2 separate regions of the Homo sapiens genome follow, and region 1 is linked to region 2. The links come from fine-mapping of genetic effects on gene expression. A gene starts in region 2. The other region holds a variant in brackets. All regions are shown on one strand. Distances are from middle to middle. Region 1 holds the start of OPA3 (outer mitochondrial membrane lipid metabolism regulator OPA3). Region 2 holds the start of TRAPPC6A (trafficking protein particle complex subunit 6A).

The links. PIP is the estimated chance that this variant, and not a neighbour inherited with it, causes the effect. A credible set is the group of variants that fine-mapping cannot tell apart.
Region 1: its variant is the best candidate, but not a certain one, in a credible set for the expression of TRAPPC6A in monocytes (BLUEPRINT, PIP 0.75).

Annotation. Positions count from the first base shown.
Region 1 is chr19:45,573,853-45,584,847 of GRCh38, reverse strand. OPA3 (outer mitochondrial membrane lipid metabolism regulator OPA3) reads left to right here and starts at 46. Exons shown (of 2, transcript NM_025136.4): 1 at 46-225. The coding sequence starts at 84. RefSeq lists enhancers at 1-166, 1,002-1,937, 1,938-2,873, 3,373-3,873, 7,324-7,473 and 1 more. The variant GAAAAAAAAAAA/A (reference allele first, on the strand shown) is at 4,847.
Region 2 is chr19:45,170,953-45,182,586 of GRCh38, reverse strand. TRAPPC6A (trafficking protein particle complex subunit 6A) reads left to right here and starts at 4,350. Exons shown (of 6, transcript NM_001270891.2): 1 at 4,350-4,452. The coding sequence starts at 4,369. It overlaps BLOC1S3 (biogenesis of lysosomal organelles complex 1 subunit 3), which reads right to left and starts at 3,803. Exons shown (of 2, transcript NM_212550.5): 1 at 3,756-3,803; 2 at 787-3,299. The coding sequence starts at 3,290. The coding sequence ends at 2,682. RefSeq lists enhancers at 1,589-2,090, 2,516-3,016, 3,557-3,876, 3,947-4,016, 4,029-4,972 and silencers at 2,897-3,206, 4,377-4,596.

The sequences.
Region 1 (10,995 bases), 400 kb before region 2:
CACGAGAGGGCGGGGGAGGAGTGAAGAGGTTGAGGCGCCCCGCCCAGTCAGCAAGGTTGCGCGTGCCCTGTGAGACCGCCAAGATGGTGGTGGGCGCGTTCCCTATGGCGAAGCTGCTATACTTGGGCATCCGGCAGGTCAGCAAGCCGCTTGCCAACCGTATTAAGGAGGCCGCCCGCCGAAGCGAGTTCTTCAAGACCTATATCTGCCTCCCGCCGGCTCAACGTGAGTCTGACCCGAATTCCCTCCAACCTTTTTCCTTTCTCCAACCCCTGTCAGGTGGTTGCTTAGGGGATGGACTTCTGTCTACGACCAATCACAGCCCGAACCGGCAAAGTCCAGTGGCCAATAGTGGGGGGTTTCTGATAGAGGGGCGTACGGGTGGCCCAGTAGTGAGGGCGGGGCGGGGCGTAAGGGGCGGGTCAAGGAGCCACCACGCGAGTAGGAAATGCCAGCCGATAAAGGAAGAGAGCGCTTGGAGACTGATGCCCTGTTAAACCAATAGTGTGAGAGATGGGAGAAATTTGGACGGGGCTTTCCAGGATAGAGGAGCTAGGGGAGGGGCTGAGGAGAAACCGGACGGGGTCCTTTGCCCGGCTGTCCTTGGGCAACTTCATTTCAAAAGCGGCACCGTGTGCCTCAGTTTCCCCACTGATCTAGGAGGTGCTTGTATATCCTCCGTTTAGGACGTCGACGTGCCTCAGTTTTACTGTAGTCAATAAGTCTGGATTAGGGGCATGGTTCGGGGGTGAAGTCTGGGTTCTGGAGACATGGCCTGGGAATCCGGAAAAGGACTTTGAGCCAGAGAGGACATTCATCTGTGTACTCATTAATGCGCTCATACGCCGTCCTTTCATTCGGTTGACAGACTATGCGGCCTTTTTGCTCAGCACTGGGAGATATACTCCTGATCCATCACTGTCAACCCAGAGTGGTCGGGAAAGTGGGAGCCCCGGAGCTCAGAGGAACTGGCTGACCCAGGGACCTGAGGCCAGCAGGGCTGCCTAGAGGGGGCCGCCCGAGCTCAGATCTAAAGGGCATAGTAAGGTCCGGCGCGGTGGCTCACACCTGTAATACCAGCACTTTGGGAGGCCGAGGCGGGCGGATCACATGAGGCCAGGAGTTCGAGACCAGCCTGGCCAACATAGTGAAACCCGGTCTGTACTAAAAATACAAAAATTAGCTGGGTGTGGTGGCGCACACCTGTAATCCCAGCTACTTGGGAGGCTGAGGCAGGGGAATCGCTTGAACCTGGTAGGTGGAGGCTGCAGTGAGCCTAGATTGTGCCATTGCACTCCAGCCTGGGCGACACAGCAAGACTGTCTCAAAAAATAATAAATAGAAATAAAGGGCTTAGTAAACACCCAAAATATAAACTACTTTAAAAAGGTGATCTTGCCGGGCGCGGTGGCTCACGCCTGTAATCCCAGCACTTTGGGAGGCCGAGGTGGGCAGATCACGAGGTCAGAAGATGGAGACCATCCTGGCTAACACGGTGAAACCCCATCTCTACTAAAAATACAAAAAAATTAGCCGGGCGTGGTGGCTGGGCGCCTGTGGTCCCAGCTACTCAGGAGGCTGAGGCAGGAGAATGGCGTGAACCCGGAAGGCGGAGCTTGCAGTGAGCCGAGATCGTAACACTGTACTCCAGCCTGGGTGACGGAGCAAGACTCCGTCTCCAAAAAAAAAAAAGGTGATCTGTGTTGTGCTACGTGGGACATAAAATAAGGGAATTTAGCATCATTGGCTGGGTCAGAGAACCACTGAAACCGCCTTTGCAAAATTATGACTGACACAGCGAAAGAGATCTAAGTTAACTTACTCCATCTTGCTTCTAACCTCCAAGCTATCCTTGTTCATTCCTGGGCAAAGGCTGAACTAACTTTGGGAGAGATTTAGTTTGTAGTTTATAGTTTAAACAAACATGGTAACAGCCCTTTCCCAAAGCAGACCTCCTTCTTGTCTGGCGACTGGATTGCCTTTGTAGGACTAACATTAGCCACAAGATTAGAAATTATGGTTTAGGAGTCATGCAGCTGGAGGGTACAAGATTCTGACCCTCCCTAAACTGCTCCTAAGATCAGTGCTTGAGATATTTCACAGACCCTGCACTTGATGGATCAGCTGGCCTTACCCAGATCAATAAACTGGCCCATCTGATCTTGTGGCCCCCCAACCCAGGAACTGACTGAGCGCAAGAAGACAGCTCCGACTCCCTGTGATTTCATCTCTGACCAATCAGCACTCCTGGCTCACTGGCTTCCCCTCACCCATCAAGTTATCCTTAAAAACTCTGCTCCACCGAGATCGCACCACTACACTCCAGCCTGGGCGACAGACCGAGACTCCGTCTCAAAACAAAAACAAAAAACAAAAAAACTCTGCTCCAGCTGGGCCCATTGGCTCGCATCTGTAATCCTAGCACTTTGGAAGGCTGAGGGGGGTGGAGCACCTGAGGTCAGGAGTTTGCAACCAGCCTGGCCAGCATGGTCAAACCCCGTCTCTACTAAAAATACAAAAGTTAGGCGGGCTTGGTGGCGGGCGCCTATAATCCCAGCTACTCGGGAGGCTGGAGCATGAGAATCGCTTGAACCCGGGGATGGAGGTTGCAGTGAGCCAAGATCGCGTCACTTCATTCCAGCCCAGGCGAAAGAGTGAAAATCCATCTCAAAAAAAAAAAATAAAATAAAATAAAAATAAAATCTCCCTGAATGCTCAGGGAGACTGATTTGAGTAATGGTAAGACTCCTGGCTGGGGCGCGGTGGCTCACGTCTGTAATTCCAGCACTTTGGGAGGCCGAGGTGGGTGGATCATGAGGTCAGGAGTTCGAGACCAGCCTGACCAACATGGTGAAAACCCGTGTCTACTGAAAATACAAAAATTAGCTGGGTGTGGTGGCGCACATCTGTAATCTCATCTACTCAGGAGGCTGAGGCAGGAGAATTGCTTGAACCTAGGAGGTAGAGGTTGCAGTGATCCGAGATTGCACCACTGCCCTCCAGTCTGGGCAACAGAGCAAGACTGTCTCAATCTCAAACAAACAAACAAAACACCCTCCCGCACAGCCAACTCTGCGTGAATTACTCTTTGTCTTGCAGTTCTCCTCTCTTGATGAATCAGCTCTGTCTAGGCAGCGGGCAAGGTGAACTCCTTGGGCGGTTACACACCATTCATCCCTCCATCCATTCATTATTTCCTTTAGCTGGTATTTTGTGAGCCTCTGCCCTGTGCCAGGCCTTGTGCTGGCAATGCTGGCGAAACAGCAGGGACCAAACCAGCACCAATCTGTGCCCTCAAGGAATTCCTAGTCCTGCGGGGGACAGACGTATCCCCCAACAGTGGGCAGAGCTGAGATGGGGGAGCCCACTGGGCACCTGACATGGCATGGGGTTCAGGGAGGGCTTCCTGGCAGAGGAGACATCTGAATTGGGACCTGAAGGGTGAGGACAACACCAGGACAAGGCGTAAGGAAAGCACTGGGGCAGAGGGAGGAGCACACACAAAGCCCACATGATTAAGGGAGTGCACTTTTTTTCCCCCTCTGTAAGTTTGGATGCTTAAAGTTTGCTTTCCAGGGCCCGGAATTCTTGGTTGTTCGGTGTTTGGTGGGGTCTTTGTTGGGGCTGCAGCTCTTAGAATGGGAAAGTATTAGATTTCACAGTTACCAAAGTGCTTTCCTGTTAGCCATCTCATTTGACCCCCACAACTGTTTTGTCCCCATGTCCGGAAAGAGGAATGACTTCCTCTGGTTTATAGAAGGGAAAATGGAGGTGTTGAGGGCAGCAGTTAATTGCTCAGGTCATACGCAGAGATTTGTGCCAGAGGCGAAACTTTGGACACTGAATTCCTAGACCCAGTTTGTTTCCTGTCTCTGCCTGTCTTCCAAACACTGTGACATTCTTAGCGTTGTGGTTTAGAAAATGGCTTCTGGAGCTGGGCGCAGTGGCTCATGCCTGTAATCCCAGCACTTTGGAAGGCGGAGGTGGGTGGATCATGAGGTCAGGAGTTCAAGACCAGCCTGGCCAACATGGTGAAACCCTGTCTCTACTCAAAATACAAAATTAGGCAGGTGTGGTGGCGCACACCTGTAGTCCCAGCTACTTGGGAGGCTGAGGCAGGAGAATTGCTTGAACCTGGGAGGCAGAGGTTGCAGTGAGCCAAGATCACACCACTGCACTCCAGCTTGGGCGACAGAGCGAGACTCTGTCTCAATAAATAAATAAATAAATAAATAAATAAATAAATAGGCTTCTGTGCTGGGCGCGGTGCCTCCCACCTATAATCCCAGCACTTTGGGAGGCCGAGGCAGGCAGATCACCTGAGGTCGGGAATTAGAGACCAGCCTCACCAACATGGAGAAACCCCGTCTCTACTAAAAATACAAAATTAGCCAGACGTGGTGGCGCATGCCTGTAATCCCAGCTACTCGGGAGGCTGAGGCAGGAGAATCGCTTGAACCCAGGAGGTGGAGGTTGCAGTGAGCCGAGATCACGCCATTGCACTCCAGCCTGGGCAACAAGAGTGAAACTCTGTCTCAAAAAAAAAAAAAAAAAGGCCGGGTGCAGTGGCTCGCGCCTGTAATCCCAACACTTTGGGAGGCCAAGGTGGGCAGATCACGAAGTCAAATTTCAAGACCTGCCTGACCAACATGGTGAAACCCCTTCTCTACTAAAAATACAAAAATTAGCTGGGCGTGGTGGCACGCGCCTGTAATCCCAGCTACTCGGGAGGCTGAGGCAGAAGAATCACTTGAACATGGGAGGCGGAGGTTGCAGTGAGCCGAGATCGTGCCACTACACTCCAGCCTGGGTGACAGAGCGAGACTCCATATCAAAAAAAAAAAAA[GAAAAAAAAAAA/A]GAAAGAAAATGGCTTCTGGAGTCAGACTGACATAGGTTTGAATCCCTACCCAGACTGGTGACTTTGGGTACGTCATTTAGCCCCTCTTAGCTTCAATTTCCGATTCTGTACATTGGGTATTATGTAATGGTCACATTAACTGGGCTTGTACTTTGTGCCACGGCTTGTCTGCAGCACCTTCCAGCCTCTGGCACTGGGTCCTCACCAGTTATGATGAGGTAGATACTATTATTATTATTATTATTATTTTGTGTATATACTATGTATGCATTATGCTGTAAATAATATTTATTGTGTTGTGGTGAGGATTAAGTAAATGGATATAAAATGTTAAGTCAGTGCCTGGCATAGGGTCATGGCTGTCACGTAGATGTTATAGATACAACAGGCAGGAAAAAGCAAAACATCTTGCCCTCAGGTACCTTACATTCTTGTGGAGGAAGCCAGACAATAAATGAAATAAATAGTTGGCTGGGCCCAGTGGCTCATGCCTGTAATCCCAGCACTTTGGGAGGCTGAGGCTGGTGCATCACTTGAGGTCAGGAGTTTGAGACCAGCCTGGGCAACATGGTGAAACCCCATCTCTACTAAAAATACAAAAATTAGCCAGGTGTGGTGGCAGGCACCTGTAATCCCAGTTACTTAGGAGGCTTAGGCAGGAGAATCACTTGAACCCAAGAGGCAGAGGTTGCAGTGAGCCGAGATTGCACCACTGCACTCCAGCCTGGGTGACAGAGTGAGATTCCATCTCAAAAAATAGTTAAAAGATGAAGTATATTAGATAGCAATAATTGCTCTAGGAAAAAAATCAGGGTTGTAGAACAAGGAGTATTTAAAGGAAGGCTATAAGCCTAGATAGGATTGTCAGGGAGAACTCACTGAAAATATGCCAAGGAGGGAGGGAACGAGCAGCATTGCCATCTGGGGGAAGAAACGTTCCAGCCCAGAGGATCCCGCATGCACACAGGACCTGAGGCATGAGCGTGCCTGGCACACAGGACAGAGGAAACTGATGACGGGAAAGGGGGACAGTTTGTATGGGGCCTGTGGGTCACTGCAAATGCCTTGGCTTTACTCTGAGTGGAACAGGACTTACTGGAGGGTTCTGTGCAGCAGAAGGACAATATCAGAGTTCTGTTTTATTTTATTTTATTTTATTTTTTGAGACAGAGTCGCACTCCGACACCCAGGCTGGAGTGCAATGGTGTGATCTTGGCTCACCACAACTTCCGCCTCCCGGGTTCAAGTGATTCTCCTGCCTCAGCCTCCCGAGTAGCTGGGATTACAGGCATGCGCCACCACGCCCGGCTAATTTTGTATTTTAAGTAGAGATGGGGTTTCTCCATGTTGATCAGGCTGGTCTCTAACTCCCAACGTCAGGAGATCTGCCCGCCTTGGCCTCCCAAAGTGCTGGGATTACAGGCATGAGCCACCACGCCTGGCCCGGGAGCAGAGTTTTTAAGGATAACTTGGTGGGTGAGGGGAAGCCAGTGAGCCAGGAGTGCTGATTGGTCAGAGATGAAATCATAGGAATTCAGAGATGTCTTGTGCTCAGTTAGTTCCTGGGTGGCGGTGGGGGAGGGGGAGGGCGGGCACAAGATCAGATGAGCCAATTTTTTGATCTGGGTGGGGCCAGCTGATCCATCAAGTGCAGAGTCTGCAGAATATCTCAAGCACTGATCTTAGGAGCAGTTTAGGGAGGGTCAGAATCTTGTATCCTCCAGCTGCATGACTCCTAAACCATAATTTCTAATCTTGTGGCTAATGTTAGTCCTACAAAGGCAATCTAGTCACCAGGCAAGAAGGAGGTCTGCTTTGGGAAAGGGCTGTTACCATGTTTGTTTAAACTATAAACTAAGTTTCTCCCAAAGTTAGTTCAGCCTTCACTCAGGAATGAACAAGGACAGCTTGGAGGTTGGAAGTAAGATGGAGTCAGTCAAGTTAGATCTCTTTTGCTGTGTCAGTCATAATTTTGCAAAGGCAGTTTCAGGATTACAGGCGTGAGCCACCACGCCTGGCCTCAAAATCTAAAATATTTACTCTCTGCCCCTTTACAGGAAGAGTTTTCTGACCCTGCTCTAGAATAGTATCCCTGCCCTTGTTTTTTGACATTGACATTGGAGCCAGTCCTCTGATTGATAGTGTGTCCCGATGTCTGGAGTCTCCTGATTGCTTCCCCGATTGGATTCATGTTGAACATGTTTGGCGGGAACACCACAGACTCGAGGTGCCTCCTAAGGACATCCCTTCAGGGGACTCCTGAGGTCTATTTGTTCTGTCATTTGTGATGGTGATTTGGATCGCTTGGTTAAGGTGTAACCATGTCAAGAACCTTTCCTTTTCCTCTTAGTAATGAATAACCAGTAGATTTGTTTACAAGGTAGAGCCAGCAGGATTTCCCATGGATTGGGTGTGAGACAGCCGACTGGAGGAGGGGCAGGTTGGACAGAAAGACCTGGAGCTCAGTTAGGGACAGGTCGAGTTGGAGATGCTACCAGATATTGCAATGTACTGGCTTCTTACATTTACACCTTTTAATTACATCATTAGTGTCTTCACACTGCTGATTGCCCTTTGCTGTGGCCCCCAGCCATGGTGATTGGAATTTCCCAGGGTGCACTGGCGGCCCTGCTTTCTCTCAGGTCAGGCGTCCTGAGCTGACCAGCAAATCCAGTATCTGTACCTTTGGCTGAGATACTTTTGACTCAGCAGGCTGCGCCCAGCTGTCTCACAGGAGAGGCTGGAGCAGTAGCTGTGGCTGCCTGAGGAAAGAACAGTACATGCTAGAAGCATAAATCATCGATGATGCACCCTGTTGGGGAGGCAAAGATCTTTTTAAACACAGAATTCCTTTGTTTAAATTATTTTAACCCAAAAGTAAAGGAGGTTGGTGATGTTAGGCAGGTTGAGGCCATGCCTGCAAAGTGCACTTTTGGTGCTCCCAGGGAGGCTGTGAGATATCTCTGGGCAGTAGGAAAATTCCAGCTCATCTGTGTTTATTCCTTTGGCGCGCACTGGTCCTTTTTCTGGTTTATCACACACAGTAGGCAGTAGAGTGACTGGTCCCCCAAAGATGTCCACATCCTTATCCCAAGAACCTGTTGAATATGTTACCATGCACAGCAAAGGTGACTTTGCAAATGTGATCAAATGAAGGATTTGGGGATGGGGAGATGATCCTGAATTATGCAGGTCAGGTCAGTGTGATCACAGGGGTCCTTATAAGGGAAAGAGGGAGGCAAGAGAGGGAATGATTTGAGGGATGCTGCCCCGCTGGCCTTGAAGATGGAGGAAGGGAGGCATGAGCCAAGGAATGCGGGCAGCCTCTGGAAGCTGGAAAAGCCGAGGAGATGGATTCTCCACTGGAGACTTCAGAAAGGAACACAGCCCTGCGGACACCTTGAGATTAGCCTAGTGAAAGCCATTTTGGACTTTTTTTTTTGGGGGGGGGGGGATGGAGTTTCATTCTTGTTGCCCAGATTGCAGTGCAGTGGCACGATCTCAACTCACTGCAATCTCTGCCTCCTGGGTTCAAGCGATTCTCCTGCCTCAGTCCCCTGAGTAGCACCCACCACCACACCTGGCACCCACCACCACACCTGGCTAATTTTTTGTATTTTTAGTAGAGATAGGGTTTCACCATGTTGGCTAGGCTGGTCTTGAACTCCTGACCTCAGGTGATCCACCTGCCTTGGCCTCCCAAAGTGCTGGGATTACAGGCGTGAGCCACTGCGCCCAGTTTTTTGTTTTGTTTTGTTTTGTTTTTTGAGAGGGGGTCTCACATGGTCGCCCAGGCTGGATTACAGTGGCATGATCTCAGCTCCCTGCAACCTCTGCATCCCGGTTTCAAGCGATTCTCCTGCCTTGGCCTCCTGAATAGCTGGGATTACAGGCGCATGCCCTAATTTTTGTATTATCAGTAGAGACGGGGGTTTCACCATGTTGGCCAGCTGGTCTTCAACTCCTGACCTCAGGTGATCCACCCGCCTTGGCCTCCCAGAGTGCTGGGATTACAGGCGTGAGCCACCACAACTGGCCCCCATTTCAGACTTCTGACTTCTGGAACTGTAAAATAATAAATTTAGGGCAGGTGCGGTGGTTCATGCCTGTTATCCCAGCACTTTAGAAGGTCGAGGCAGGAGGATCACTTGAACCCAGGGGTTCAAGACCAGCCTGGGCAACAAAGCGAGACCTTGTCCCTACTAAAAATAAAAAACAATTAGTGGGGCATGGTGATGCATGCCTATAGTTTTAGCCACTCAGGAGGCTGCGGCAGGATTGCTTGAGCCCAGGAGAATGAGGCTGCAGTGAGCTGTGACCGCACCCCTGCACTCCAGCCTGGGTGACAGAGCAAGACCCTGTCTCAAATAATAATAATAATTTGTGCTGTTTTAAGCCACTGCATTTGTGGTAGTTTGTTATAGTGGCCGTGGGAAACAGATACACCATGATCATTCATTCAGGTTGCTGAGGTCATTTTTTCAGAAGTGCTCAGCTCTGTGGCCATTCTTATGAATTTAGGCCATGGACTTGGTTTCAGTTTTCTTTTTCTACATAGCCATCTGATCCAAAGCTTGGTGGCTTACCGTAGTAACTCTTAGCCAGGTGCAGTGGCTCATGCCTGTAATCTCAGCACTTTGGGAGGTTGAGGTGGGTGGATCACTTCAGGCCAGGAGTTCGCGACTAGCCTGGGCAACATGGCAAAACCCTTTCTTTACTAAAAATACAAAAATTTAGCGGGTACCTGTGGTCCCAGCTTCTCAGGAGGCTGAGGCAGGAGAATCGCTTGAACCTGAGAGAGGTGGAGGCTGCAGTGAACCGAGATCGTGCCACAGCACTCCAGCCTGGGCAACAGAGCAAGACCCTGTCTCAAAAAGGCAAACAAACAAAAAACCCAGTCACTCTTAGTTTCTGTTACCTTTGTGGCTTGCCTGGGCTCAGCCGGACAGTTCTTTTGCTGGTTGCTGCTTGGCAGGCTCTCATCCAGGTGCAGGTGGAGGTGGCTGGGCTGGAGTCATCTGGAACTGGCACTGGGACTGGGGAGTTGGTTCCCTCTCAGCGTAGCCTCTGGGCCTCTCTTCTCCACGTGGTCTTTCCTGCAGGGTAGCTGAATATCTCACATGGCTGCTCAGGACTCCCCAACAGCCAGATTTTCATGAGGGAAGAAGCAGAAGCTGCAGGTTATTTAAGGGCAAGGCCTGGAATCTTCCAGCGTCATTTCCACCACACTATTGGTCAAAGCAGCTCCAGGCACAGACCACAGTGGGTGTGGGAAAGAACTGCACAGGGTGTGATACGAAGGGGTCCCTGATGGCACAGTCTGCCACAGAGTAGGCACTCTTGGCTTCGGATCTTGGCACTGCTGCTTATTAGCCATGTGACTTTGAGCAGGCAGCTTGACCTCTATGAGCCTCCATTTCCATATTTATCAAATGGGATACTAATAGAACTTATCTCCCAGGATTCTTGTGAGGATGCAGCAGGATAGTGGATAGGCGAGCCCTGGCCCGGGACATGCCCATCTGGTTGCTACTACAGGCTACAGGGGGTATACATGGAATCCGTTTTTTTTTTCTTTTTTTTTTTTTTTTTTGAGACAGAGTCTTGCTCTGTCGCCCAGGCTGGAGTGCAGTGGCACGATTTTGGCTCATTGCAAGCTCCGCCTCCCGGGTTCACGCCATTCTCCTGCCTCTCAGCCTCCCGAGTAGCTGGGACTACAGGCGCCCGCCACCACGCCCAGCTAATATTTTTTGTATTTTTAGTAGAGACGGGGTTTCACCATGTTAGCCAGGATGGTCTCGATCTCCTGACCTCGTGATCCGCCCGCCTCAGCCTCCCAAAGTGCTGGGATTACAGGCGTGAGCCACTGCGCCCAGCCCCCTTTGTTTTTTTTGAGATGGAGTCTAACTTTGTTGCCCAGGCTTTTGCCTTCCTGAGTAGCTGGGATTACAGGCGCCTGCCACCACGCCCAGCTAATTTTTGTATTTTTAGTAGAGACGGGGTTTCACCATGTTGGTCAGGCTGGTCTCCAACTCCTGACCTCAAGTGATCCGCCCGCTGTGGCCTCCCAAAGTGTTGGGATTACAGGCGTGAGCCACCGCACCCAGCCGGAATCCCTTCTTGTCATTACTGCCCAA
Region 2 (11,634 bases):
GCTCAAGCGATTCTCCTGCCTCAGCCTCCCGAGTAGCTGGGATTACAGGCATGTGCCACCACGCCTGGCTAATGTATTTTTAGTGGAGATAGAGTTTCACCATGTTGGCCAGGCTGGTCTAGAACTCCTGACCTCAGGTGATCTGCCTACCTCGATCTCCCAAAGTGCTGGGATTAAAGACATGCGTAACTGCGCCTGGCCTATTTATTTTTGAGACAGAGTCCTGCTCTGTCGCTCGGGCTGGAGTGCAGTGGCACGATCTTGGGTCACTTCAACCTCTGCCTCCAGGGTTCAAGCGATTCTCATGCCCCAGCTCCCTGAGTAGCTGGAATTACTAGCACGTGCCTCGGCCTCCCAAAGTGCTAGGATTACAGGCGTGATACATCGCCCAAAATTTTTGTATTTTTAATAACTACAGGGTTTCACCATGTTGGCCAGGCTATCATCTCTATTTTTAAAAATTAAACTATAAATTATGATTACTAGAACTATCTATGAGAACATCTTATTACTGTTTCTCCCACTGGACTGCGACCTCTGTGAGGGCAGGGACTGGGTGCTATACCCCTAGCCGCAGCACAGGTCAGGTACCCAAAACGTGTGTGTTGAATTAATAAAATACGAGTAAATACAGAACCAGGGCAAAAATCTAGGGCCCCTGATTTCCCAACTACAGCTTCACCTTCCATAAGCCAGGCATGGAGGTCTCGGGACCCCCATTCTCAGAGAAATCAACCAACTCACCCTTAGCTTAGATAGGGAAACAAAAGGAACTAACCATAAGGGTAAATGCTTAAGAGTTTTAATCAGTCCGCCATAAAAAGCTCCTCCCCATTCTCCATCTTGGGGGCTCAGATCTTGGCTTCGGGTTGAGATGAGGGACAGGGATATCAGGCTGGGAGAGGAGAGTAAATATGAATGCGGCTGAGGGACCAGAGCTGGGATCGGAAGAAAACACAGGTGAAAAGGAGCAGAAAGAGACTGCTAACCCCAGTCCCTGAGCCAAGTCAGAAATCCAAGTCCTTTTATAGCATCCAGGAGCCAAATGTAGTGAAATCCACACATCATATCGTTCTTATCTGCAAAGTGCTGTCATCTGGCGCTGAAAGCACCAGGACTGGGCTGAATTGGGCCCGAAGTGCCTGAAGGGTGTCACTTTAGGTCTGGAGAGTCAAGAGGAGACGCCACCTTGGCCTACAGAGTTGAGAGCGAGCATCATCTTGGCCTGGAGGGGTGTGCAGGAAATGCCACCTTGGTCCAGGGAGTTGGGAGGAAGATCCCCTGCCTTGGGTTAAGAGGGGCCATCATTTTGGGCCTGCAGAAGGAAGGAAACCATGGGGAGTCCCCAGACCCCAGGATCAGGGAGGTGTAAGTAGGATGGAGACAGTAAAAGAAAGCAAAACCTATCCCACGACACTGCTGGACTTGGGAAACAGAAATCAGGCTGAGAGGGCGGGGCTAAGCTCAAAGGGGAGGAGGCAGGAGGCAGATGGGAGAACAAAAAGTAGAACCAGCACACGGAACCAGGGCCAAGCTTGGGCAGCAGAACAAGGACCCAGCTGGCTAGGCGCAGTGGCCCACGCCTGTAATCCCAGCATTTTAGGAGGTGAGGCGGGTGGATCACCTGAGGCCAGGAGTTCGAGACCAGCCTGGCCAACAAGGTGAAACCTCATCTCTACTAAAAATATAAAAAGTAGCCAGGCGTGGTGGTGCATGCCTGTAATCCTAGCTACTCGGGAGGCTGAGGCAGGAGAATCGCTTGAACTCGGGAGGTGGAGGTGGCAGTGAGCCGAGATCACGCCACTGTACTCCAGCCTGGGAGACACAGTGAGACCCTGTCTCTAAAAACAAAACAAGGACCCAGCCTAGGGTGAAGGCAGTTCTGGAAGTGGAGCTAGGATGGGAGGCGTAGCCAACTGAGTGAAGGAAGACGGCAGGGAAGCTGTGCCACATCCTGGGTTCTTGTGGGAAGAACGGGAACAAGCTCCCCACCATAAGCAGAAACCAAACTCAGAAAGGCAGAGCAGAGCCCAGTGTGTGGTGGCTCACACCTGTAACCCCAGCACTTTGGGACGCCACAGTGGGAGGATTGCTTGAGCCCGGGAGTTTGAGACAAGCCTGGGCAACATAGTGAGACCTTCTCCCCTCTTCAAACCGACAGAAAAAAATTAACCGGGCAGCTGGACGTGGTGGTGCAGGTCTGCAGTCCCAGCTACTCTTGAAGGCTGAGCTGGGAGGATCACTTGAGCCCAGGAGGTCGAGGTTGCAGTGAGCAGTAATCCCGCCACTGCACTCTAGCCTGGGTGACAGATAAACACCCTGTCTCCAAAAAAAAAAAAAAAAAAAAAAAATTGGTGAGCCCCCAGGGTGGAAACAGATTAAGGAGCAACTATGTAACAAAGGCTGGAGCCAAGCCCCAGGGGAAGGCTCAGAACCAGGCGGCAGGGTCAGGATCGGGAGAGGAACCAGATCTAAGGATAGTGGGGCCCTGGTCTCCGCAGTAGGGGTTGAACTATATCCAATATAAAGCATTATCCAAGGGGACCGGATTAGCCCCCATGGGTGACACCAAGATGGGAGCGGGGGTGGGGGGTGATAAGAGACACAGGAGACAGAGTCAGGTCCCAGAGGCAGCAAGGCCTACCCCCAAATTGCAGTCAGGTTGGGAAGTAGAATCATGGCTAGGCCCGCGGCCCCGGGTCTTTCTCAGGCTCGGTCCCTGGCACGCCGCGGATGTCCGGCAGCAGGCGGCAGCCAGCCACGATGTCCAGACGCTCGGCCAGCGCACAAAGGTCCCCGCGCGCCAGGCGCACGCTGTGGGCCGCCGCCAGCCCCGCCGCCTGGGCTGCCGCCAGCCTACTAGCCAGGGCGGCCACGTCGCGGCCTGCACGGCGGTAGACACCGCTCACGGCGGCCGCCACGTCGTGGTCCAGCCGCGCCTGGCTCTCCGCCAGCCGAAGTTGCAGGAGCGAGCGCGCGGGGGCGGGCGCCGGGGCCTCCTCCGTGCCCCAGGCCTCCTCCGCCGATTCCCGCTGCACCACGAGTGGAGGCAGGTCCCTCGGCGCGGCCGTCGGTTCCGGCTCCGGCTCCGGCTCCGAGTCGGTCTCCGCGGCTTCCCCAGCCACCCGCAGCCCCGTGGGGCGGCCGCGCGTCGGGCCCGAAGGACCCAGGTACAGCTCCTCCTCCTCCGACGAGGACGCAGAGCGCTCGGAATCCGTCTCGGTCGCCTCCCCCGGCACCACCGTCTCCGGCCTCCGCAGGGGCCTCCGCCGACGACCCTGGGACGCCATGGCACCGAACTAGGGGAGAAGAGCGAAGGGACTGCACGTGAGACCGGCGCCGCGGTGGGTAAAAGGCGCAGGTCCTGGATTCCCAGCCCCTTCGCTGATTCTCTTAACGACTTGGTGTCAGCTGCTCCCCGTCTGGGCCTCAGTTTCCTCTTCTGTAAACTGGGTGATGATGGGGGTTACTGGACCCCAGGCTCTTCAGCGTACAGATGGGGAAACTGAAGACCAGCTCGAACAAGGATCTGGGGCCCGAGTTCCCGGAGTCCCAAGCCGAGGTCTTTACGAATTTGCCTCCTAGTAGAGGCCACACCCTCCACCTGGTCCACCATGCCAATCTCAGACCCGGAAGCACACGGGCCCGTGAGCTGCTCGGGACCAGCGCCAGAGTCGCAGAAAGGATGACAGTCCGACTGGACTCTGCTGGGGGCACTCATGGGATGGGAGAAGCGCTAACGCCAAAGACCGTACCCGGCAGCTGACGCTCGGAGCTTGCGAGATCCGCTTCCTAACCCGAGTGCTGCGTTCTCACCGTGGCAGCTGAAGGGCTGTGATTTCAACCAATAGGGGAGCGGGTTGGGCGGGCATTAGCGGCCAAGTCACGTGGATTCGCCCGGCTACCAATCAGGAAGCAAGTTCTCAGCATCAGCTTTGAGTGAGCGTGCAGAAGAGTCACATGAATGGAGGAACCGCCAATAGAGAAACAGCTGGGCCGGCTCTTCCAGGTTGTGCGACGAGGAAAGTCTGGAGTGGACCAATAGGGATTTTAAAAGCCGAGTATGTCACGTGTAACCAGTAATTTGGCCAATAGGAATGCTCGAGAACCCGGAAATAGGGAAGGGACGGCAGTAAGAGCAGAAGATGTTGCCACATGTGGCCAGAGAAGGCGTAGGCCCGCCCCCTAGTGTCCCAGGCTCACGCGCACACCACCTGAGTCCGGGGCGGGGAGGCGGGGCTAGTCTAAAACACCAATGGAAGCCGGAGTAGGAGGGCTCGCGCCATGACGCAAGAGGCGTGGCTTACCAAGCCTGGCCAATGAGAGCTGGAAGCGCTGGGCGCATCTTTAGGCGTGCGAGGAGGGGGCATGGCGGATACTGTGTTGTTTGAGTTTCTTCACACGGAGATGGTGGCTGAGCTGTGGGCTCACGACCCCGACCCCGGCCCGGGGGTGAGCGCCGGGCTCCGTGGGGAGGAAGCGGGGGCCACCAAGGTAACGCCTCTGGGAGAGCGGAGGGCGCGTCAGGCGTCCGGGTTCGAACCCGGCCCAGCCCCGGCCTTGCAGGGCAACGTCTGGCCCTGGCTTCCTCCTTTGGAAAGTGGCGTTCGCGACGGTGCCGGCTCGGGGTTATTGCTAAATTGAGCGCGATGATTCAGGGTAAAGCACTTAGCTCAAGGCCTGAGTAAGCGGCTAGTAATCATAATAATGCTGTTATTGGGCGTGTGCTGAGGACTCGCCTCCCCCACTTACTAGGTGTGCGACCCAATGACTTAATCTTTGTGTGTCCTAGTTTTCTCTTTTGTAAAATGAGTATCATAACGTACCTAAGCCTCAGCGTGGGACATTTATTTATTCGACACCCACTTATTGAGCGTCTGTTGTATTCCAGGCACCGTTCTAAGACAGAATCCCTTCCTTGTGAAGCTTACATTTCACTAGGGGAGTCAAATAATAAAATGAAATATGCCGGCTGGGCGCTGTAGCTCCCAGCACTTTGGGAGGCCGAGGCCGTCGGATCACCTGAGGTCAGGAGTTCAAGACCAGCCTGGCCATGGTGAAACCCCGTGTCTACAAAAATTAGCCGAGCATGATGGCGGGTACCTGTAATCCCAGCTACTCGGGAGGCTGAGACAGGAGAATGGCTTGAACCTGGGAGGCGGAGGTTGCAGTGAGCCAAGATTGTGCCATTGCACTCCAGCCTAGGCGACAGAGCGAGACTTGTCTCAGGAAAAAAAAAAAAGAGATAATGGGGTTTTGCCATGTTGCCTAGGCTGGTCTTGAACCCCTAGGCTCAAGTGATTCTCCCGCCTGGGCCTCCCAAAGTGCTAGGATTACAGGCGTGAACTACCGTGACTGGCCCGGGACTGTGTGTGTGTGTGTGTGTGTGTGTGTGCGCGCACGCGCATCCTGCTCGGTCGCCCAGGCTGGCTGGAGTGCAGTGATGCAGTCATGGCTCACTGCTGCCTCGACCTCCTGGGCTCAAGCGATCATCCCACTTCTCAGCCTCCCAAGTAGCTGGGACCACAAGCGCTGCTGGCGCCACCACACCTGGCTAATTTTTTGTATTATTATTATTTTTTTTAGTAGAGACGGGTTTTCACTGTTAGCCAGGATGGTCTCCATCTTCTGACCTCGTGATCTGCCCATCTTGGCCTCCCAAAGTGCTAGGATTACAGGCGTGAGCCACTGCACCCGGCCAATTTTTTTTTTTTTTTAGTAGATACGGGGTTTCACCATTTTGGCCAGGCTGGTGTCGAACTCCTGACCTTGTGATCCACCCGCCTCGGCCTCCCAAAGTGCTGGGATTACAGGCGTGAGCCACCGCACCTGGCCATGTAAGACATTTTTATTGGCTCTGGTTTCCTTCCAGGGTTAGAAGCCCCAGGGAGGATGTTGCTTGTTACCATCTCGATATACAGATACAAACCTGTCATAAGTTTAAAACATCATAAATCAAAAATGCATTTAGCCAGATGTGGCGACTTGCACCTGTAATCCCAGGTACTCAGGAAGCAGAGGTGGGAGGATCACTTGAGGCCCACCGTTCAAGACTAGCCTGGGCAACATAGCAAGACCTCACCTCTAAAAGAAATTTTTATTTTTATTTATTTATTTATTTTTGAGACAGAGTCTTGCTCTGTCGCCCAGGCTGGAGTGCAGTGGCGCAATCTTGGCTCACTGCAAGCTCCGCCTCCTGGGTTCACGCAATTCTCCCGCCGCAGCCTCCTGAGTAGTTGGGACTACAGGTGCCTGCCACCACACCCGGCTAATTTTGTTTTTTTTTTTTGTATTTTTAGTAGAGATGGGGTTTCACCATGTTAGCCAGGATGGTTTTGATCTGACCTCGTGATCTGCCCGCCTCGGGCTTCCAAAGTGCTGGGATTACAGGTGTGAGCCACTGTGCCTGGCCAAGAAATTTTTAAAATTAGCTGGGCGTGATGACACATGCCTATACTACCAAGAACTCGGGAGGCTGAGGTGGGAGGATTGCCTGGGCCCAGGAGTTCAAGGCTGCAGTGAGCTATGATCATGCCACTGCACTCCAGCCTGGGTGATAGAGTGAGACCCTGTCTCTAAAAAAACATGGGGATTACTCAGTGAACCATCAAAAATTTTTGGACTCTTGGAGCTTTGTCATCATTGGAGGAGACAGACAAGTAAATGAGTAAAGTGTCTGGTACATTGTGTAACTGCTATGAGGAAGATACAGCATGGCCCAGGGAGTATGCATCAGCCTGGGGGTGGGTAATAATGTCCCAACACTCCATATCCTTCCTGGCTTTCAAACGAGAAACCCTGGAGTCCCAACACCTGCCTTGTCTCCCTCACCTGCAGCCCTCCCCCAGGCTCTGCCCAGTCAGTCTAAATACCTTTCTCACGTGGCCCCTCCTCTGCCCTGGTCCAGTGCTTTCCGCTCTCCTGTGAAATGAGCCTGCTCCCTTCTCCCAGCCCATTCCACCTGTCACATCTTCACCATGCTAACAACTATTAATCCTTCAGATCTTAGCGTAACAATCCCTTCCTCAGGGATGCCTTCCCTGAGCCCCCAGTCAAATTTGGATCTCCTTTATACATTCTCCTGGTCTCCCTCTCGCACTTTTTTCTTGGTAGGCTTCATCATACTCAATAAGGATGTATTTGATTTTTTTTTTTTTTTTGAGACGGAGTCTCGCTCTGTCGCCCAGGCTGGAGTGCAGTGGCGCGATCTCGGCTCACTGCAAGCTCCGCCTCCCGGGTTCATGCCATTCTCCTGCCTCAGCCTCCCGAGTAGCTGGAACCACAGGTGCCCGACACCACACCCGGCTAATTTTTTTTTTTTTTTTTGAGACAGAGTCTCGGTCTGTCCCCCAGGCTGGAGTGCAGTGGCGCGATCTGGGCTCACTGCAAGCTCTGCCTCCCGGGTTCACGCCATTCTTCTGCCTCAGCCTCCCGAGTAGCTGGGACTACAGGTGACTGCCACCACGCCCGGCTAATTTTTTGTATTTTTAGTAGAGACAGAGTTTCACTGTGTTAGCCATGATGGTCTCGATCTCCTGACCTTGTGATCTGCCTGCCTTGGCCTCCCAAAGTGCTGGGATTACAGGTGTGAGCCACCGCGCCTGGCAATTTTTTTTTTTTTTGTATTTTTAGTAGAGACGGGGTTTCAATGTGTTAGGCAGGATGGTCTCGATCTCCTGACCTCATGATCTGCCCACCTCGGCCTCCCAAAGTGCTGGGATTACAGGCGTGAGCCACCACGCCCGGCTGATTTTTTTTTAAAGAGAGTCTTGCTCTGTCACCCAAGCCGGAGTGCAGTAGCATGATCATAGTTCACTGTAGCCTCACACTCCTGGGCTCAAGTGATCCTCCCACCTCAGCCTCCTGAGTAGCTAGGAGTACAGGTGCACACAACCATACCCTGCTAATTTTTAAATTTTTTGTAGAGATAGGTTTTCACAATGTTGCCCAGGCTGACCTTGAACTCCTGGGCCCAAGCGATCCTCTGGCCTCAGCCTCCCAAAAACTCACACCTGGGATTACAGGTGTGAGCCAGCACGCCCTGCCAGGATGCGTCTGAATTGTGTATCTGTATGATCCTTTAATTCACATGCGTCTCCCCCAGCCGGAGTGTACTTTGTGCGGGATGGGCCTGGGTGTGTATTGATGACCACTGGATGTCCTGGCTCGTAGTGGGTCCTCAGTGTGGACGTGTTGAGGAGGTGAATGCAGAGCCTGTGCCGTGGCAGGTGGGGATGGGTGGGGACTGGGATTCATTTGGCTTATGAGCAGTGCTAGCTCTTCCCTCCCTCCCCTCATATGAGTGCTTCCTGTGTGCACTCATGGCTTCTCACTCTTGATTTCATTTGATCTTCTGATGACCCAGAGAGGTTGGCATGGTCCTCCCCGATTTACAGATGAGGCGGCGGAGGCTTTGATGGACGGAGTTCCTTGCTCTCAAGTGGCAGAGTCAGGAGCGCGACCAGGCCTCCCACTTCCAAAGCCTGTGCTGTAAACTCTCACTTGCATTTCCCAGCATTTGCCCTGGGAAGGATTTTAATGGGTTTCTGTGGTCAAGCGAGTGTGGGAAACTGGCTTACTCAGCTCTGCTCACCACCAGCCTTTCAGAGCACACGAATGTGCCTGGGACCTTGGGCAGGGGTTCCCTACCCAGCTGCCACTACATTCCGATGCTGGAGTCCCACACCAGAGACTCTGACGAACCCGGTTGGGGTGAGGCCTGAGTGTCAGGCCTCAGAAAGCTCCCAGGTGGCTCTCGCTGCAGCTAGGGGTGAGAACTGCATCGTTTCCCCTCACTCCTTCCTCCTGGGGAGCCCCGTTTTTCAGGGGGCCTGTCATGAGAAACGGCTTCCTCAGTCCTTTCTCTTTATTGGCCCCACCTCCTCTCTCCATTCCTTCTCTTTGGCCCAAAAGGGTTCCTCTGAACCAGACAGGCCTCCCGTTTCCTGAGGGCGTCTGTGCAGTACTTGCACAGTGTTGACTGCATTTAGTCCTCAGGACAGCCCTCCCGATTCACAGAGGAGGGACCCTGTGCTTGGTAGAGGAAGGGATTTCGAGGTGGTTCAGCAAGACTCAAAGGCAAAATTAGAACTCAGGCTTCTGGCCCCAGGGCTTCTGGGTAGCGCAGGCCGCCTTTCCCACCAGCTTCAGAGCTCCTTGAGGACAGGGATGGTGGCTCCTTCATCTCTGTCCCCACAGCACAGGTGCCCAGGAGCCACAGCCAGTGTGTAGGGCTTTTGTGACCTCCTATCCTGCCTGGTACGGTGGTTATTTGTGGCCATTCTCCTGGGCTGTCACAGGTTGTGAACTGGAGGACCGGCCAGAGGGGCCAGGAAGGCCTTTGTTCTCTAAGGAGGAGAAGCCCTTGGAGGAAGCAGCCGTGGCTTTTCTACCTCAGAGGCTTTGAAGACAAGGGAAGCCTTTGGGCAAAGAGAGGATTCCCCTGAGTGCATGTAGTAAAGAGCTAAGGCGCTGTCACCCATTGTCTGAGACCAGGCCCGAGGCGCCCCGAGAATAGCCCTGCTGCGCCAGGCCTCCATCCACCACACCCCGAGAGTGCACTTGGGCAGCCCCTTATCTGAGGAGGGTGTGGGGCGGGCGGAGCGGCTGTCAGATAGGTCCCTGCCCGGAACACCGTCCTGAGCATCTGTGGCTGGGAGCTCCAGCGAGGCCCTCCTGGGAACTGGGGCTCCATCCCGAAGGCAGTGGGAGCCATAGCCGGGTTTAAACTGAGGTGCGCCTGGCTCAGATTTACATTCTAGAAATGTCTCCCTGGCCACAGGAATGGACTGGATGGAGATTGGCCTGGGAAGGGCCCCGCTGTTGCAGGAGCTTAAGGCAGAGGCTGTGGTGGGCTCAACCTTCCGGGCTGGGCCAGGGGACAGGATGGGGAGTTCTGAGTGGGCAGAGGCAGGATCTGGACTTGCTCAGGATGCCTTGCTGGACCAGGGAGGAGAGTTGAGGGCAACAGCAGGGAAGTCCTGCAGGCTTCTCGCACCCACCCCTCACTCACCCATCTGTGTGCCAGCACTTCTGTCTGTGTGCTTTTCTTAACCAGGGCTGCTCCTTCCCTGGGTTCCCCACCACACCCCTGGGCCTGGCACAGAGTGGCTCAGCAGGTGGGCGTTGAACAGGGTCAGCCTCTGCCCAGGAGCTAGCAGGTGCCTAGAGAACAATCGAGGGGTAGGGCAGACACAAGAGACAGGAAGGGGTGGAGCACATGGCCCCCACCCGCCTCCCTCCCAGTTCAGGGCAGAATGTTCTCTTAAAGGCAAAATTAGAACTCAGGCTTCTGGCCCCAGGGCTTCTGGGTAGCACAGGCCGCCTTTCCCACCAGCTTCAGAGCTCCTTGAGGACAGGGATGGTGGCTCCTTCATCTCTGTCCCCACAGCACAGGTGCCCAGGAGCCACAGCCAGTGTGTAGGGCTTTTGTGACCTCCTATCCTGCCTGGTACGGTGGTTATTTGTGGCCATTCTCCTGGGCTGTCACAGGTTGTGAACTGGAGGACCGGCCAGAGGGGCCAGGAAGGCCTTTGTTCTCTAAGGAGGAGAAGCCCTTGGAGGAAGCAGCCGTGGCTTTTCTACCTCAGAGGCTTTGAAGACAAGGGAAGCCTTTGGGCAAAGAGAGGATTCCCCTGAGTGCATGTAGTAAAGAGCTAAGGCGCTGTCACCCATTGTCTGAGACCAGGAGCTCCCAAGTGTCTAAAGGGGCTTTGGTTTGCTTTTTCCGTTCATCCTCCTTGGAGCTCAACCCCTTGGCTTCAGTCTGGACGTGTGAATCTTCCTTTAGCTCAGGACATTTTTCTCCTGTGATCTCTCTGATGATTTCTTCTCCTGCATCGTTCCCTGTATGTCCTGTAGGCACCACAGGGAATATTAGACTTCCTGCATCTCTTCCAAGCATCCTGTAGCTTTTCTCTCATTTTTTCCTCCCTCCTGTTTTTCTTCTGGGAGGTGTTATCTGTCTTACAGGTTTCTCTGTTATTCAGTTCCCTTGTTAAAAAGTGTTGATTTTGGCCACCATATTTGTTCATTTCCAGGAACTCTGCTTTGTGTCTGATTGATCCTTCCTGTGTGGTGGATGTCATTAGCACCGACACTGATAAGACTTCCCTTCCACCTTTCCTTTCATCCGGTCTGTGTGTAAACTCAGCAGAGGCAGGCGTGGGGAGCCCCAGAAATGCACCGGCTCTGGGCTGGGCTCTGGCAGATTCATATGAATGGGAGAGTCTCTGTCTGGCCAGCCCTTCTGTTTTGTTTTGTTTTGTTTTGTTTTGTTTTGTTTTGTGACTGAGTCTCGCTCTGTCACCCAGGCTGGAATGTGTTGGTGTGATCTCAGCTCACTGAAACCTCTGCCTCCCGGGTTCAAGCGATCCTGGTGGCTCAGCCTCCTGAATAGCTGGGATTATAGGCGTGCGCCACCACGCCCGGCTAATTTTTGTATTTTCAGTAGAGACAGGGTTTTGCCATGTTGGCCAGGCTGGTCTCAAACTCCTAACCTCAAGTGATCCTCCCGCCTTGGCTTCCCAAAGTGCTGGGATTACAGGCAAGAGCCCCCGCGCCCAGCCCCTTCTGTTTTTAAGAAAGATAAACCCCTAACCTCTGAAGAGCTTTTGCAGTGACATGGGCATGGAC